Regions from separate parts of the Homo sapiens genome. Here region 2 is reported to be linked to region 1. Evidence: microRNA targets listed by miRTarBase, many of them from high-throughput screens and not tested one by one. Region 1 holds a microRNA gene; the other region holds the end of a gene's coding sequence.

The links. The annotated mature microRNA hsa-miR-6501-5p reads AGUUGCCAGGGCUGCCUUUGGU and lies in region 1 at 2,427-2,448, shown strand. An mRNA with a match to its seed (bases 2 to 7 or 8) in the 3' UTR can be bound and repressed. Matches are read on the target gene's strand: a 7mer-m8 pairs with bases 2 to 8, a 7mer-A1 pairs with bases 2 to 7 and ends in A, and an 8mer does both.
Region 2: miRTarBase lists WDR17 as a target of hsa-miR-6501-5p. Seed matches in the 3' UTR shown: 7mer-A1 at 3,849-3,855.

The regions. Positions count from the first base shown.
Region 1 is chr21:33,548,238-33,553,628 of GRCh38, forward strand. MIR6501 (microRNA 6501) reads left to right here and starts at 2,425; the gene lies at 2,425-2,491. It overlaps SON (SON DNA and RNA binding protein), which reads left to right. Exons shown (of 12, transcript NM_138927.4): 3 at 1,239-5,391.
Region 2 is chr4:176,179,149-176,184,539 of GRCh38, reverse strand. It overlaps WDR17 (WD repeat domain 17), which reads right to left. Exons shown (of 29, transcript NM_181265.4): 29 at 1,725-5,080. The coding sequence ends at 4,961. Among named protein-coding and RNA genes, the nearest start is that of SPATA4, 14 kb to the left of the region's middle.

The sequences.
Region 1 (5,391 bases):
ATAGAAACATTTGAAAAGTTATTTATTAGTGGTTTTAGAATAGTATTGGGGGAAAATGTTATCTCTTTAGGGTATGTAAATTCAAACTTTCTTAAGTTATAAGGACTAAGAATTTCCTCTCTAAAATCAGTATCCTTTTCTAAAACAGAAACATTTAAAAAGTTATTTTAGTGGTTTCAGAATAGTATTGGGGGAAAATATTATTTTTATTAGAATGTAACGTAGGCATGATAAGGTAAAATTTGAGTTCTCTATGAATATTTTATATTTGTTATTCAGATATTTTTATACTCTGTAGAAGCAATCACTAACCTTTGTTGAAAGCTTATTCTGTGCCAGGCATTATTTGATGTACTTTGCATGTTTTAACTCACTTTATCCTCTAACTCTAGAAGACACAAGTGTGTCAGTAATTTGGCCAAGACCATTAACCTAGTAAGTGATGAACTGATTGAGGATTCAAAAGTGGCAGTCTGTTCCAGAGCCAGTGCCATGTTGCTTCCTGTATAAACAAGGGTTAATAATCGCAAAAATTATATTATGTGGGTATTTTTAATAGAAACTGTAGCAACTAATAACATGAAATATATTCAGTGACAAAAGTAGTTTAAAAGTAATTTTGCTATGATTTGAGAGCTGGAGGGAATAATTATTTTAATAGAATTTAGTGAAACATGTCTTAATGTAATTCAAAGTAAGTTTTGGTGTTTAATAATTTATTTTTAACCCAGGCATTAGTTGTGGAAAGAATTATCAGAAAAGTAGTAGTCTCCAGGTTAACTGTTTTATGAAAAATAGTTTATTTGGTAACTTTTAATTTAACGTGAGGTGTTATACTGTGGGGTTTTTTTTTTTTTTTGAGACAGAGTCTTGCTCTGTTGCCTAGGCTGGAGTACAGTGGTGCAATTTCAGCTCACTGAAACCTCGACCTACTGGGTTCAAGTGATCCGCCTCAGCCTCCCAAATAGCTGGGACTACAGGTGCGCGTCACCATGCCTGGCTAATTTTTGTATTTTTAGTAGAGATGGGGTTTCACCATGCTGGCCAGGCTGGTTTTGAACTCCTGACCTCATGATCCACCTGCCTTGGCCTCTCAGAGTGCTAAGATTACAGGCGTGAGCCACTGTACTTGGCCTGTACTAAGGTGTTTTAACATGGAATGTAAATATGGGTTTATATGATTTAATCTAACTCTACTTTGGGGAATGTCTGACAAAATTAATTTCTATTACTTTTAGACTTGAAAGAGGGCTCCAGAAAAAGTAGATGCGTATCTGTACAAACAGATCCTACTGATGAAATTCCCACTAAAAAGTCAAAGAAGCATAAAAAGCACAAAAACAAAAAGAAGAAAAAGAAGAAAGAAAAGGAAAAAAAATATAAAAGACAGCCAGAAGAATCTGAGTCAAAGACGAAATCTCATGATGATGGGAACATAGATTTAGAATCTGATTCCTTTTTAAAGTTTGATTCTGAACCTTCAGCTGTGGCGCTGGAGCTTCCTACAAGAGCATTTGGCCCATCTGAGACCAATGAATCCCCTGCAGTTGTGCTAGAACCTCCTGTAGTATCAATGGAGGTATCAGAGCCACACATCTTAGAAACTCTGAAGCCAGCTACAAAAACTGCAGAACTGTCAGTTGTATCTACATCAGTAATCTCAGAGCAGTCAGAGCAGTCTGTGGCAGTAATGCCAGAACCATCCATGACAAAGATTCTGGATTCCTTTGCAGCAGCACCAGTGCCTACTACAACACTGGTGTTGAAGTCATCTGAGCCAGTTGTAACAATGTCAGTGGAGTATCAGATGAAGTCTGTGCTGAAATCTGTGGAGAGCACATCTCCAGAGCCATCAAAGATCATGTTGGTAGAGCCCCCAGTAGCAAAAGTGTTAGAGCCTTCAGAAACCCTTGTGGTATCATCAGAGACACCTACTGAGGTGTACCCTGAGCCAAGCACATCAACAACAATGGATTTTCCAGAGTCATCTGCAATTGAAGCGCTAAGATTGCCAGAGCAGCCTGTAGACGTACCATCGGAGATTGCAGATTCATCCATGACAAGACCGCAGGAGTTGCCGGAGCTGCCTAAGACCACAGCGTTGGAGCTGCAGGAGTCGTCGGTGGCCTCAGCGATGGAGTTGCCGGGGCCACCTGCGACCTCCATGCCGGAGTTGCAGGGGCCCCCTGTGACTCCAGTGCTGGAGTTACCTGGGCCCTCTGCTACCCCGGTGCCAGAGTTGCCAGGGCCCCTTTCTACCCCAGTGCCTGAGTTGCCAGGGCCCCCTGCGACAGCAGTGCCTGAGTTGCCAGGGCCCTCTGTGACACCAGTGCCACAGTTGTCGCAGGAATTGCCAGGGCTTCCAGCACCATCCATGGGGTTGGAGCCACCACAGGAGGTACCAGAGCCACCTGTGATGGCACAGGAGTTGCCAGGGCTGCCTTTGGTGACAGCAGCAGTAGAGTTGCCAGAGCAGCCTGCGGTAACAGTAGCAATGGAGTTGACCGAACAACCTGTGACGACGACAGAGTTGGAGCAGCCTGTGGGGATGACAACGGTGGAACATCCTGGGCATCCTGAGGTGACAACGGCAACAGGGTTGCTGGGGCAGCCTGAGGCAACGATGGTGCTGGAGTTGCCAGGACAGCCAGTGGCAACGACAGCGCTGGAGTTGCCGGGGCAGCCTTCGGTGACTGGGGTGCCAGAGTTGCCAGGGCTGCCTTCGGCAACTAGGGCACTGGAGTTGTCGGGGCAGCCTGTGGCAACTGGGGCACTAGAGTTGCCTGGGCCGCTCATGGCAGCTGGGGCACTGGAGTTCTCGGGGCAGTCTGGGGCAGCTGGAGCACTGGAGCTTTTGGGGCAGCCTCTGGCAACAGGGGTGCTGGAGTTGCCAGGGCAGCCTGGGGCGCCAGAGTTGCCTGGGCAGCCTGTGGCAACTGTGGCGCTGGAGATCTCTGTTCAGTCTGTGGTGACAACATCGGAGCTGTCAACGATGACCGTGTCGCAGTCCCTGGAGGTGCCCTCGACGACAGCGCTGGAATCCTATAATACGGTAGCACAGGAGCTGCCTACTACATTAGTGGGGGAGACTTCTGTAACAGTAGGAGTGGATCCCTTGATGGCCCCAGAATCCCATATATTAGCTTCTAACACCATGGAGACCCATATATTAGCATCCAACACCATGGACTCCCAAATGCTAGCGTCCAACACCATGGACTCCCAGATGCTAGCATCCAACACCATGGACTCCCAGATGTTAGCGTCTAGCACCATGGACTCCCAGATGTTAGCAACTAGCTCCATGGACTCCCAGATGTTAGCAACTAGCTCCATGGACTCCCAGATGTTAGCAACTAGCACTATGGACTCCCAGATGTTAGCAACCAGTTCCATGGACTCCCAGATGTTAGCAACCAGCTCCATGGACTCCCAGATGTTAGCAACCAGCTCCATGGACTCCCAGATGTTAGCAACCAGCTCCATGGACTCCCAGATGTTAGCAACCAGCACCATGGATTCTCAGATGTTAGCAACCAGCACCATGGACTCCCAGATGTTAGCAACTAGCTCAATGGATTCCCAGATGTTAGCATCTGGCACTATGGACTCTCAAATGTTAGCTTCTGGCACCATGGATGCTCAGATGTTAGCGTCTGGTACCATGGATGCCCAGATGTTAGCGTCTAGTACCCAAGATTCTGCTATGTTGGGTTCAAAATCTCCTGATCCCTATAGGTTAGCTCAGGATCCTTACAGGTTAGCTCAGGATCCCTATAGGTTGGGCCATGACCCCTATAGATTAGGTCATGATGCTTACAGGTTAGGACAAGACCCTTATAGATTAGGCCATGATCCCTACAGACTAACTCCTGATCCCTATAGGATGTCACCTAGACCCTACAGGATAGCACCCAGGTCCTATAGAATAGCACCCAGGCCATATAGGTTAGCACCTAGACCCCTGATGTTAGCATCTAGACGTTCTATGATGATGTCCTATGCTGCAGAACGTTCCATGATGTCATCTTACGAACGCTCTATGATGTCTTATGAGCGGTCTATGATGTCCCCTATGGCTGAACGCTCTATGATGTCAGCCTACGAGCGCTCTATGATGTCAGCCTACGAGCGCTCTATGATGTCCCCTATGGCTGAGCGCTCTATGATGTCAGCTTATGAACGCTCCATGATGTCAGCTTATGAACGCTCCATGATGTCCCCAATGGCTGATCGATCTATGATGTCCATGGGTGCTGACCGGTCTATGATGTCGTCATACTCTGCTGCTGACCGGTCTATGATGTCATCGTACTCTGCAGCTGACCGATCTATGATGTCATCTTATACTGCTGATCGTTCAATGATGTCTATGGCTGCTGATTCTTACACCGATTCTTACACTGACACATATACAGAGGCATATATGGTGCCACCTTTGCCTCCTGAAGAGCCCCCAACAATGCCACCGTTGCCACCTGAGGAGCCACCAATGACACCACCATTGCCTCCTGAGGAACCACCAGAGGGTCCAGCATTGCCCACTGAGCAGTCAGCATTAACAGCTGAAAATACTTGGCCTACAGAGGTGCCATCATCACCATCTGAAGAGTCTGTATCGCAGCCTGAGCCTCCTGTGAGTCAAAGTGAGATTTCGGAGCCTTCAGCAGTGCCTACTGATTATTCAGTGTCAGCATCAGATCCCTCAGTTTTAGTATCAGAGGCTGCTGTGACTGTTCCAGAACCACCACCAGAGCCAGAATCTTCAATTACGTTAACACCTGTAGAGTCTGCAGTAGTAGCAGAAGAACATGAAGTTGTTCCAGAGAGACCAGTGACTTGTATGGTATCTGAAACTCCCGCCATGTCAGCTGAACCAACTGTGTTAGCATCAGAGCCTCCTGTTATGTCAGAGACAGCAGAAACATTTGATTCCATGAGAGCCTCAGGACATGTTGCCTCAGAAGTATCTACATCCTTGTTGGTTCCAGCAGTAACTACTCCAGTGCTGGCAGAGAGCATTCTGGAGCCGCCAGCCATGGCTGCCCCAGAGTCTTCAGCTATGGCTGTCCTGGAGTCTTCGGCTGTGACCGTCCTGGAGTCTTCGACTGTGACTGTCCTGGAGTCTTCGACTGTAACTGTCCTGGAGCCTTCGGTTGTGACTGTCCCGGAGCCTCCTGTTGTGGCTGAGCCAGACTATGTTACCATTCCTGTGCCAGTTGTTTCTGCGCTGGAGCCTTCTGTGCCTGTTCTGGAACCAGCGGTGTCAGTCCTTCAACCTTCTATGATTGTTTCAGAACCATCTGTTTCTGTCCAGGAATCGACTGTGACAGTTTCAGAGCCTGCTGTCACAGTCTCAGAGCAGACTCAAGTAATACCAACTGAGGTGGC
Region 2 (5,391 bases), not on the chromosome of region 1:
TAAACATAATTCACCATGATGAATAAAGAGTTCTTTCTCATAATTTTGTAGGAATGGTGAATCTACTTTTTCATATGCTTTCCTTATTAGAAATTAAAGGTTACTGCTTTGCCTATTATATAGTTACACATCACATTCATTAATTAAATCGTATTCTGAATGATTATTATACTTTGGCCCATAGAACATCTTGATCATCTCTAAGAACAGCCTGAACTTAAACCATTAAAAAAAAACAGGTGTCCCTTCTATTGAAAACAAGTTGTGGGGAAAGAAAATCATCCTTTTCTTGGAATTTGATTCGGTGTTTAGCAATACATTTAGTTCAATTTAAAAGTTCCCACTGGTTGCTGCTATGCCCCATATTTTAACTGAAGGGAAACAAAAGCAGACTGATGTCCTGAAAAATTAATAATCTTTTATATATACATGGTAATTTTATGTTTTATATGTGGAAAATTTTCAACTGGTATTATTTATGTTTGATACTGGCTCATTAATAGTCTCATTTGACTCCCAAGATGAATATTACTAATGTCAATTTTCAGTTAAACTTACCAGATTTTCTGCATTTTTGAAAGTTCAGACTGTTTTATTAGCAATTCTACCTCCAGAGACTTCCTTGTTAAATTTTGCATTTTTAGAGAGATAATATTGAAGAAGACTAAGAAAGCCCGGATGATACAGATAACTTACTGGGAATGTGTTCAAAATCCAGTTTTATCTGAGGTAAGAGATCTAGGTCAAATGCATATCTTAATCAGCTATAAGTAATGTATCTGTTGTCTTGCACTCTCATGGGACAATCTAAAGTACAAAATTATGAGAATAACTTTTAACCTATATAGTTCCTTTGGAAAAGGTTTGAGAAACAAGTCTCTGAAGCTCAGCCATGAAAAAGATCCAGAGAAGAGGATTAATTTTGGGTAGAGTCAAATAATAAGTTTCTTTGTCCTCCTGGTGCTGTGTTCAATCTCCTGAAAGAGCTCATCACTCATGGCCCGACTATGGTAAGTTCCCAAGAATCCTGAGGGACCTATAGAGACTGGAAAATAGGAAATAGTCTGTAGGCTTCATTACATAGTGATTATGTAAATGAAGATACAGGATGGTCAAAGTGGGTAACCTCAAGAGTTTCTTGAGGATGAATTGTGCAACAGAAGCCAACACTACAGGCATATCTTAGACCATTTACTTCAAAAAGAATCTTTGACAGAAGGAAGCAATGAAATTTTCTAGGAGCTATAGCAGCTGCTATAGGAATAAAACATTTTCTTTTTTGTTTTGTTTTGTTTTTATTTTTGGTTTTTGAGACCTAGTCTTGCTCTGTTGCCCAGGCTGGAGTGCAGTGGCGCAATCTCAGCTCACTGCAAGCTCCGCCTCCCGGGTTCACGCTATTCTCCTGCCTCAGCCTCCCGAGTAGCTTATGGGAATAGAAGCTACTATGACATAGCATTTGTATTAATGAGTAAGCACTTTCTCCATTTTTATAGTAATTTTGGGGTATACTGTAGTCAGTGTTTCTATAGTGAAGAATCAGCCTCTGGAACAATTCAATGAAGTGATTTTCCTAGGTTACTGAGTAGGGTAACAACTCAGTTGGACAGCTTAGCCCTTTCACACCTCTGATGACTCTGATCCAAGCATTTATGGAGAAACACTTGTCTTTCAATGGTGTCTCGGGAAAGAAACAACTACTCATCTTAGCCGGTAACTATGTCATATCAGGATTTAACTGTAATATTTATTAAAATTTCAAGGACCTGAAATACGTACATACATATAAATCTAGATAATGACATGCCAAATTATAGCACAGTCATGATATATAATTTTAGCATGAAAGTACATATTTCATTTATGTACAAATATCTCAAAGATTTGGTACAATAAGCATTAATTAAGAGTTGACTATAAAGATGTCTTCTATATTACTGATATACTAAATATGAACTACTAAATTTTACAAATAATTTGTGAGGCTTTTATTATATTCAGAATACCTTTTGACTTAAAACTGAAATAATATAAATGTTATAAGGACAACAAAATACAGTCATTGCTCTAATGCAATCATGTTCCTGAACACATCTGGACAATTTCATAGAAATATATATATATATATATATATATACACACACACACGCACATATATATATTTCATACATACATGTATATATATACACATACATATATATTTCATTTGTCTTGATTGACATAAAAATCATATATTTTCACAAGATGTAACTATTTTGATGTTGTAATTTTGTGAACCACCTAGTTACTAACTTTTACAGGCAAAATATTTTTCCAATGCTTTAAAAATCATTGTCTAATGAGACTCTTCCTTTACAGAGGCATATTTAAACCTGCAAAGTAATTTGTCCACATTATTGGTAATATGAACATTTTCAAATAGTAAAATAAATTCATATAATTTGCTTGGGTTTCATGCATATGAAATCTAATAAAAATACTTTTATGAATTAAAAAATTTGTTTTTCATATTAAGGTACAATATATACAGATTGACATAGTCAAATGACATTTATAATTCTATGAAAAATTAATAGTTATAGGTAATAAGATATAGACATTGTAGAAATCAAAGATAATAGAATGATGGTCAAATCCATCCAATTTAGATTTCAGACAGAAATTGGGTGGCTATTCTGTTGTATTTATGTGCTTAAAGACTTGCAAAATTTTTTCTTCATCTTTTATACATAAAAATATTATTTTCCTGCATTCATTAAAAATACAGAAGTAATGATTGTTTATATACTTAATGATATCCTTTTAAGTATGTAAGCACAAAAAGATAGGCTTATTTATTTATTTTAAAATAAAAAGAATGACAGTAGGATTGAGACTGCCATTTTTAAGTGAGGGGTTTTTAGTACATATGTGCCAGTTAATAATCCTCCTCACCTAAGAAAAATTTGAGTTACAGATATCTCTAAGAGTTTAAAAAAATACATCTCAGGTACTCTTTTTATATTATCCATTGCATCTCTGAGTTGTGTATATTCTCTTCTATAATATTAATTATTTTTATATATATAATTTTTGGAGATGGTGGTCTTGCTCTGTCGCCCAGGCTGGAGTGCAGTAGTGCGATCTCAGCTCACTGCAACCTCCGCCTCCTGGATTCAAGCGATTCTCCTGCCTTAGCTTCCTGGGTAGCTGGGACTACAGGTACACACCACCACACCCAGCTAATTTTTGTATTTTTAGTAGAGACAGGGTTTCACCATGTTGGCCAGGATGGTCTCCATCTACCGACCTCAAGATCTGCCCATCTCGGCCTCCTGAAGTGCTGGGATTACAGGCAATTTTTTTTTTTTAATAAAATGGAATTTAAGCCTGTAATGTCTTTTTAAGGAATCAAAAGTGGTCATGTGATAAATATGATACATAGATACATAATATATATTTTTTCCAGTTTTAAGAAGTTTTGTTAAGAAGGTTTTAAAAATATTTTAAATGCAACAAGTTTAAAGATAATAAAAGCCACAAGTATTCTAGTTATATGAGATTATTCTTTAGTCAAACAAAACCATCTATATTATAAATCTTGTGAAACAACTTGAGTATCAAAGTACTTCCAGTATGCATTAATTTAATAAGTTTCAAAGTCAGAATTCTAGTCCAACTGAAATATCTGTAGTCACATTATCAGGCTTTTCATAGCTTCACACTTTTAAACAACATTTTAAAAGTTAAATCAACATAATATATCCAAAAATTCAACCAATATCTATTTACAAACATTTACTTAAAACTAATTTTCATCAAATCAATTGTGGTTTTTGTTGGTTTGTTTTTTGAGACAGAGTTTCGCTCTTTGTTGCCCAGGCTGGAGTGCAGTGGTGCGATCTTGGCTCACTGGAACCTCTGCCTCCCAGGTTCAAGGGATTCTCCTGCCTCAGCTTCCCAAGTAACTGGGATTACAGGTGCCCGCCACCATGCCTGGCTAATTTTTGTATTTTTAGTGGAGACAGGGTTTTACCATGCTGGCCAGGCTGGTCATGAACTCCTGACCTCAGGTGATCCACCTGCCTTGGCCTGCCAAAGTGCTGAGATTACAGGTGTGAGCCACCGTGCCCGGCCAAATAAATTGTGTTTTAAATAAAGTTAACATAAATTGACTAGAGTATACTGTGTAAATTATTGTACACATTAATCAAAACTAATATCCATGCATGCTGAATCTCTTAAAATAGTCACTTTATCACCTAATGCAAGTTTTCATATATATATTCGACTGCATTTTGTGATTTTTACCCGCCAATTTTTTTCAAGCCTATATAACTTACACCTTTACAATGGGACAGTTAAACTTCAGATAAAAAAACTGGTAACATTTTCTTTTTTTTAAAAGTATTTTGAATGTGTATCCATTTATTAATATTTACTAAACTTATAACTGAAAACTTTTATTAAAACAGCTAACGTTAGTGGTTTACTATGCATTTTATAAAGGAGAACGTAAGTGTTTGTTAAGTTGAAGATCACTGTGCACACCTTACATTTCAACATTTCAAGATATTCAATCATTCAAATATCCATTAAGTACTTACTGTATGTCTAGCACTATTCTAGGTGTTGCACAATTTAATATGTTTCAATATTTCAACCATATGATATTTTGGTATCTTTTATGCTGTGTGAAACTTTTATATGCTTTTTAGATTATTCAGTCCTTTATAATTTAAATGTTTCCTCCTTCCCAAACGTAGCTATTACTGTTTATAAAGGAGGCACCTATTTTTCCTTTAAATTATATATATATATATATTTTGAAGTTAATGACTAAAATTCACTGCTATTTCCCACCTCTCCCAACCTGCAATCCTTCTCCCAACCTCTGGCACTTGAGCAACAAAGATTAAGGTAATGCTAACCCATGAAAGTTTTTCTTTAAAAAAAAAAATCAAGCATGGACAAAAATCTTCTATCAGAATGGATTGAGTCGTATTCCAGTCCCTAAAGGTGAGAATGGATTCACCTTTGCCCACATCAAAGCATCATTCAAGGAGATAGCAGATTTCCCGTCTTCAAGGAAAAACACAGGGCCCTGCACAGTGAGAGTTGAGGAAAGAGAAGATGAGATTATAAATTTGCAAAGTATTTTTAAACTTTCAGAAAGAGAATCACTGCAATAAAAAAAAACATAATATTTAGGCAAAGCTAATAAAAAAATGAAGACTATGAGAAAATTAGTTTTTTTGAGCTGGACCCAAATATAGAAACATTTTCAAATGTCTTAACATTATGTCATTATACCCTAATATCTGTTAAAATAGAATTGTTTACAATTTAAATTCTTTAAATACAATAGTAATGCCAATGACAAATATGTTTTGTTAATCTGGTAACTGCCACAAA